Homo sapiens: one gene and its partner. The protein of the gene in region 2 purifies or fractionates together with the protein of the main gene of each other region. This does not show direct contact. Each region holds a gene or a part of one and is shown on either strand. Other genes may lie near its edges.

The links. Proteins that work in one complex are often made in the same cells at the same time.
Region 1: the proteins of PML (region 2) and NDUFS1 purify together in Homo sapiens (affinity purification with mass spectrometry; 4 studies listed by BioGRID and IntAct, with this or other methods). This does not show direct contact.

Annotation. Positions count from the first base shown.
Region 1 is NC_000002.12:206,124,945-206,128,809, forward strand, and holds part of NDUFS1 (NADH-ubiquinone oxidoreductase 75 kDa subunit, mitochondrial isoform 1 precursor), read right to left. Parts: intron 3,029-3,865; coding exon 2,853-3,028; intron 1,901-2,852; coding exon 1,766-1,900; intron 1,668-1,765; coding exon 1,595-1,667; intron 1-1,594.
Region 2 is NC_000015.10:74,039,431-74,043,661, forward strand, and holds part of PML (protein PML), read left to right. Parts: intron 1-3,558; coding exon 3,559-3,709; coding exon of another isoform or gene 3,710-3,750; exon of another isoform or gene 3,751-3,908; intron 3,909-4,231.

The DNA.
Region 1 (3,865 bases), on a different chromosome or scaffold from region 2:
CATGAGTAAATTTTAGGGTACATGAATTATATTTCAATAAAGCTATCAACCCCCAAGTGAATAATCTCACTTTTTTTTTTTTAAAGAGACCAGATCTGACTATGTTGCCCAGGCTGGTCTGAAACTCCTGGATTCAAGCCATCTGCCCCCCTCAGCCTCCCAAAATGCTGGAATTACAGGCATGAGCCACTGCACCAGGCCTAATCTCACCTTCTGTTTCACTAAAAAATATATAGGCCAGGGGTGGTGGCTCACATCTGTAGTCCCAGCACTTTGGGAGGCTGAGGTGGGTGGACTGCTTGAGTCCAGGAGTTTGAGATCTGCCTGGGTAACATGGCGAAACCCCATCTCTACAAAAAATACAAAAATTAGCTGGATGTGGTGGTATGCGCCTATAGTCCTAGCTACCGAGGAGGCTGAGGTGGGAGGATCACTTCAGCTCAGGAGGCAGAGGTTGCAGCAAGCCAAGATTGTGCCACTGCACTTCAGCCTGGGTGACAGAGTAAAATCTCATCTCAAAAATTATACACACACACACACACACACACGTACATGTAAACAGTAATAATTACATATAAATAACAATAGTTAATTAATATAATATATATGTGTATAATGCATATGTATGTCCCTGGAGGAAGAGTGACTAAAATGTTAAAAATAATTATAGTTATTTCTTGATAGTGGGAGGGTAGTGATTTTTCTTTTTTTAAAAAAAAAAAAACTTTTAGGTTCAGGGGTACATGTGAAGGCTTTTTACACCAGTAAACTCATGTCACAGGGATTTGTTGTACAGAATACTTCATCACCGAGGAATTAAGCCCAGTACCCAAGACTTATCTTTTCTGCACCTCTCCCTCCTCCCACTCTCCACTCTCAAGTAGACTACAGTGTCTGTTGTTTCCTTCTTTGTGTTCATAAGTTCGCAGATAAATACCATAGAAGTGATTTTTTGTTGTGCTTTTGAGCATAGGTATTATTTTACAATGAAGGTAATCTTTATTATCTAACTAAAATACTTATTTAAAAAATCTTAGATACAAACTATATAAAAAAATTAAGAGTTCTATGTGCTTTTAGATAGAAAATTAGTCAAAATAATCTATCAACTATTAACTACCTCATAACCTAGATGTTGTATCAACTGTTCTAAGAATCTGCAATAAACAAGTTTCAGTTTGTCTGCATTCCTTAAAAACATTCCTAACAATTTACATCAGAAGCACTGTTTAACATGTTTCACATTTAAATGTTTTGATTCTTCCACCTATAATTCTCAGAAAAACCTGCAGTTATTTGCCACTTTGGAAAATTCACCATAAATTGCTACACAGTGACTTTCCTTACAACAGCAAAATTTTATATTTAAAATCTATTAATTGCTTGGATTTTCAAACTTTGCTTACATTTCAGAAACAAAAAAACTAGAGTAGAATCAGAAAATATGCTTACGTTAGTTCCAATGTTTGAAAACCTTCAAAGATTAAGAATTGCAAACACTATCAATCACAAATTGGAATTATAACACCAAATGAGGTGATCTGATTACTTCTTACCTTTCGTATTTGGCAGAGTCATGTTGACAATTACATACCTGTCATGTAGAAGTCTTTTATAGTTAGCTGAGGTGGAACAAGTGGGTCAGCAAGAAGCTGCTGGTTCACTAGCTGCACAAAAAAGAAGAGATCAACAATAATATGGAAAACTAGTACTGTTACACCAGTAGATACAACATTATGAAAACTGCTCATAGGCGAGCTGTTACCTTTGAGAGCTCATTTGCTTGCTGGAAGTAATTAGCCCCTTCAATATCATCATATCGAACAAGATTAGGAGAGACTTCTTCCAATCTGTTCCTTACTTGATCCAGAGTATCATATGGAAGAGTCATTCCAGCAATCTACAACATGTCAGGTCCCCAAAAACAACAAAAAGCTTTAATACTTAAAAATATCAAATAATAGATAATTGTAACTATGGTGAAATAATGCAGCACTACTGAAAAACCTATTGGTGTCCATTAGTAGACATACATTTATGAAGGAAGCAGTTAAGCAGGGAACACAAATATCAAAAATTCTAATTCATTCACAGCTGTCAGTACATTAGTGACTCTATGAAATGAAGAGACAATACTATGCTAAATCCAAATGTTTTTGCTAACCTGTTATTAAAATACATAAAGTTTACAATGTGTTATTATTTTAAAAGTCAGGATGCTTACTTTTACATCAATAAAGAGCTAACAGATGTATTTTCAGGCAAAAGACAAGTCAACAATTTTCAACAATAAAAGCACCAATTTCAGGCCAGGTGCAGTGGCTCACACCTGTAATCCCAGCACTTCGGGAGACCGAGGTGGGAGGACTGCTTGAGGCCCAGGAGTTCAAGACCAGCCTGGCCAACATGGCGAAACCCCATCTCTACTAAAAATATAAAAATTAGCCAGGCTTGGTGGTACATGCGTGTAATCCCAGTTACTCAGGAAGCTTGCGCCCGGGAGGTGGAGGTTGCAGTAAGCTGAGATCACGCCACTGCACTCCAGCCTGGGCAACAGAGAAAAACTCTGTCTCAAAAATAAATAAAATAAAATAAAAGCACCAATTTCAAGTTCCTTTATTTTTTAAGAGACAGGGTCTTGCTCTGTCCCTCAGGCTGGAGTGCAGCGGTGCAATGAGAGCTCACTGTAACCTTGAATTCCTGTTTCTGAATACATGTTTTCTATAGAAATTATTCAAATCATCTCTGCATTTCAGACTGGCATCTTCCTTGACTTTGAAAATCATTCTAACAGGCTAAAATATCAAATATGCCTTTAGTAGCATCACTAAGAAATGACTCAGAAATTATACCTCAGAGAGTGCTCTTATAATTTTCCAGTCTTCTCTTGCCAAGCCAGGAGGTGTCACTGCTACCTTAGTCTGCTGAGCTCTACCCTCAGTGTTGACATATGTAGCAGACTTCTCTGTGTAAGCAGCTCCTGGGAGAATAACATCAGCTATGGGAGCCCCAACATCACCATGATGTCCTGCACAAAGATGGAAAATGGTAAACCAAAATTTTATTAAAAACTGATTTTCTACTGTACATGAAGATAGTATATATCATTTTAAATCCCATTTTGTAAAGTCACAAAAGTTTTTAAAACTAAAATGAAACAGTAGTGAAGTAATAAAAATTAAAGCCCACCTCAACCCTAATTCAACTCCCTTCCCAAAGAAAATTATTATTATTTTTTTGAGATGGAGTCTCGCTCTGTCGCCCAGGCTGGAGTGCAGTGGTGCAATCTTGGCTCACAGCAAGCTCTGCCTCCTGGGTTCATGCCATTCTTCTGTCTCAGCCTCCCAAGTAGCTGGGACTACAGGTGCCTGCCACCACACTCAGCTAATTTTTTGTATTTTTAGTAGAGACAGGGTTTCACCGTGTTTAGCCAGGATGGTCTTGATCTCCTGACCTTGTGATCCACCCGCCTCAGCCTCCCAAAGTGCTGGGATTACAGGCATGAGCCACCGCGCCCGGCCCCAAAGAAAATTATTGTTAAAGCATTTGGGGGCCAGGTGTGGTGGCTCATGCCTGTGATCCCAGCACTTTGGGAGGCCAAGGTGGACAGATGACTTGAGGCCAGGAGTTTGTGTCCAGCCTGGCCAACATGGCAAAACTGCATCTCTACTAAAAATACAAAAAAATTAGCCCAATGTGGTGGTGTGTGCCTGTAATCCCAGCTACTCAAGAGGGCTGAGGCATGAGAATCGTTTGAACCCGTGAGGCTGGGGCTGCAGTGAGCCGAGATCACACCACTGCACTCCAGCCTGGGTGACAGAGTGAGACTCTATCTCAAAAAAAAAAATTTTTTTTTTAAAGAAAA
Region 2 (4,231 bases):
TGCTTAAGTGCTCAGAAAGTTCTTCAGGAGCTTGAGGGCTCTTGATAAGCATGAATGTCAGATGTTCTGTATCTTCCAGAGGCTGGATGCTGACTATCAGAGTTTGGCTTGTGTTTGGCTGATGAGCAAACCTGGAATGAATCAGTGATAAGGACAATTGTTCTCAAGCTGGCTGTACACTGGGGAGTTTTCCCAACTACAGATTCCTAGGTCCTACGCCCTGAGATTCTAATCGAATCAGTCTTGGGTGCAGCCTGGGCCTCAGTTTTTTCTTAAAGCTATGAATGCCTAACCAAAGTCAAGAACCACTGAATCGGGGGATTCATTGCATGTCTGTGGTAGAGGAATGCTGCTCATTTGTTTATAGATGTGGCAGTCTTGAATGCAGGTGACATTTTCATACCAGGGTGTAATACCGCAGAGGAGGGGAGAGGCTGGATCTTCCCTGATGTACCTCCTGGACTTTTGGAGTGTGATTACAATGCCAATCCAGCCACTTCCTCTGAGCATGCTTGGGACGACTGTTAGACCTGCTGTGTTGAGTTAGAATGCACTTGACCTGCTCAGGCCGTGAAATCTATGAGGAAGGGGAGTGAGATGGATGTAGCTCATGAGCCAGATTGCAGGTGTATCCAAGTTGCATGTATATCCTGAAAAAATCCTGGCTCTCACGAGGCTCAGCCTGAACACAGTTTTGCATTCAAAGAAACAATGTCCATTAACCAAGTATAATAAAGAAATAAATCCCAGTATTTACTTGCATCTTTTGAAAGAACATTAAAGGGAATCCAGCTCATAACCCCAGCAGCACTTCTTCAGTCCTTCTTCCCCTTTTCTTTGGCGCCTGGCATCTCTCACTGCATAGCAAAGCTTTCCCCCTTGATTCCCGGTCCTCACACGCAGGCTCAAGGCTCTGTTTCCCATCTTCTTTCTTCTGTCCCCCTTCCTTTTCTCTTCCAAGCAAATCTAAGTCTTTTCCAGTGACTGTCCCTCTCTATGCTCCCCCGACACCCAGTTATCCTAATTTGCGGAATAAGGCCAAGGTGTGGGGCCTGGGGGCAGAATGGGAGAGTCTCCCCTAGTGAGCAGGGAGGGGAGTATGTTCTGCACCAGGCCACTATGTCTGATGGCCCTGCTGGCAAACCTGAGTCTTTCAGAAAGTCTTGTTTAAATGCGTCAGCACTCCCCAGCTGTGATGCTGGAGTTTAAGGCGGAGCAGGGGAGAATTCTGGGTTTACAGCTGGCTGGAGTTCCAGTGAGACCAGCTCCATGGGTGGCCATACTTTATGGAAGTCCCCAAGGGCAAGAGGAATTTTGGAGGAAGTGAGTCAGGGCTGAAAGGTCCAGCCTCTCCTCCATTAACAAGCTTGGTGGAAAGGGGGTGTCCTTTTATTAAAGGAGACAGTAGAGGTTTCTTAGAGAAGGCAGCTCGAGTAAGTTTAGGACAAAGGACATTTCCCTGGCCCCGGGACAATGGAAGGCTCTAAAAACGAGGTTCTAGTGGCTGCCATAAATGACCCTGCTGTAACGATGGGAGGGGTGGCCTAAAGAGACAGTACTGTGGCTCTCCAGGGAGCTCTCCTCTTGGAAGAGCAGATCTGAAGGCGGGAAGACTGGTTCTAAGGCCGAGGACATTGCCCCGAGCTTTGTGGAGGCACTCAGGAACACAAAGGGGCATTTCCAGTTGGGTTTGGAGCAGGAAGAAGAACGAAAAAGAGAAAGTCCTGTGTGCCATGTCAGTGGGTGGCAGCATGGACTCAGCCTCAGCTATTGGCACCAAGGATCTGAACCAGGGAGGACCCAGAAGGGGAGCCCAGCCCCTCCACCAGCTTGTGGGAGAGCGCTGCTGCCCAGTGAAGCCTGGAGAGAGGAAACAACTGGATTCTCCCAAAGCGGGAGAAGGTGGAGTCTCCAGCCACCCAGCTACAAGCTAGGAAGACGCCTTGTAGAAGGCTCCTTACAGGGAGGAAACCGAGTTGGAAAGGCGAGACAGCAGTGTGGGCTCACCCGGAGCAAGACGTGTGAAATCAGCTTTTGACAGCGTGGCTGAATGAGGATCTGGAGATGCGAGGCGCTGGGCAGACTCTCTGACTAGATCCCTGGATATGAAGAGGCAAAGCCAGCTCTAGATGGATTCATAGTGAGTGTCTGCTTCTGACAATAACTGGCAGAAAGCTGATGAGCCTGGAGCAGGGCTGTGAAATGCAAATCCAGTGAAATCCAGCCACTCCTACAAAAACCCACCACATCTTAGGTTACTTGTGGGTGGAAACGCTTTTTCTCTCAGTTGAAGCTTGGTTGGAAGCAGATGTTTCACTTGGGCATTGGAAGGGTCTGGGGAAATGTGCTGCCTCCTAGGCCAGGGACATTAGCCAGAGGCCAGAATTAACTGAGGCTTTAGCACCAGGTGACACCAACTTCATTGAGAAGCCAGCGGCAGTCCATAAAGAGGAAAAACCCAAGGCCTGCCCTGGACTCTGTCCCAGCCATGCTCCCAATTGGCCCTGTGATCCTGTCCATGTCTCTTCCTTGCTGGTCTCTGGCTAACGTCCACAGGTGGCATTCATGGGAGGTTCCAAGTTGGTCATCAAAGACTAAACATCTGGGCTTGGCAGCTGAGCAGATGATAAGCAATTAACTCTGTATTACCATCAGAGGCTCCACCTCCCTCTGTAGTCCCAGTCCCTTGGGAAAATCTCAGAGCTGGAGCCCTTCCCTCATCCTCTGGCTCCCCACCCCATGGCTTCTCGAACAGTGTTCCCACCAGGACCTTGGGACAGGAGAGAACGCCTCACCTGAAGGACTCCCAAAACTCAGGTTTCTCTAAGCTGCTGGGGCAGATGCCAAGAGCCTCCACTGCTCTCTCACTGCCAAGGACCTGGGTGTCCACCTAGATGTGGCCTTCAGGAGGCCAAGCAGTCCTTCCCCTCGCCTTTGTGTAGGACACTGGCACCTCGGCTGACTTCGGGGACAAGAAAAGGCAGGCTCCCGACCCCTTCCAAAGAATCATCTGGGGTTCAAGATGAGGCTTCTTTCTCCCGTCCCAAGTTTTGGTGTTTCTTCTGAGTCTGCTCAGAAAGATGAAATTAGGAGCAGACATCTCAGGTCCTGCCTGCCATAGCAGATGGCTCCTTCCCTGAGCCTCCATAAGCAGCACAGCACACTCATGCACACACCCACTGGCATTTTCTCTCACACTTTCATACACTTGTGTCAACGCAGGTTCACAGCTCACACTTAACTGTGCATGCACACACAGATTTAGCACTTGGATTCATTCCCACACATGCACGTTCACAACCTGTGTGTGTCACCCTTCCTCCCCTACTCATGAGGGTGTATGCCCTGGTTCATACATGTAACCCTCACATGTGACACACCCAGTTCACACCCATTCATGCACACATACCTTCTCTTGTGCACACGTCCCCTTTCCCAGTGGTACACCCTCCTTCATGTGCACGCAGATGCTCCCAGCTATACCAGCTTGCTAGTGTTCTGCACAGGTGCTTGCCTTGGCCCTCTGAATCCCTGACGCTTGGTTTTTCTGTGTTGCAGTCCTCCCGAGAGCTGGATGACAGCAGCAGTGAGTCCAGTGACCTCCAGCTGGAAGGCCCCAGCACCCTCAGGGTCCTGGACGAGAACCTTGCTGACCCCCAAGCAGAAGACAGACCTCTGGTTTTCTTTGACCTCAAGATTGACAATGAAAGTGGGTTCTCCTGGGGCTACCCCCACCCCTTTCTAATTTAGTCTCTGAGTCCCAAAAAGAAGTGCAGGCAGAGCCATCTGCCAGGCCCAGGAGAGCTCTGAGCTCTGGCCAACAACTGCAGCCAGGCTGGGCAGAGCACTCCGGCTCACCTGGGCTCCTGGCGTGTCATTTGCTGGCTTGAATAAAGATGTCCGCCTTATCCAGTGCCTGAGTGTGCGAGAGAGGCAGATGCCTCCACAAGTGCACCTCTGACCAGTTCTTCTCTCAGACAGAGAGCCTGGGGAACACACTCCTAGACAGAAACACAATGCGTGAGCTCATTGCCGTGAGCCCTGTCATCCAAGTAAGGCCTCTGGCTGTGCTACACGTTTCTGAGTAGAGGGCCAATCCCACAGGTGGCTGCACAGGGCTGCCCACAGATCCAAGGTCACAGAGGGATCAGACCCCTTATCCTGGAAGCCCCTCTACTTCCTCCAGTGCTTGCCCTGGCTCTGCAAATGCCCCTCCTTGAGCCAGAGCCCC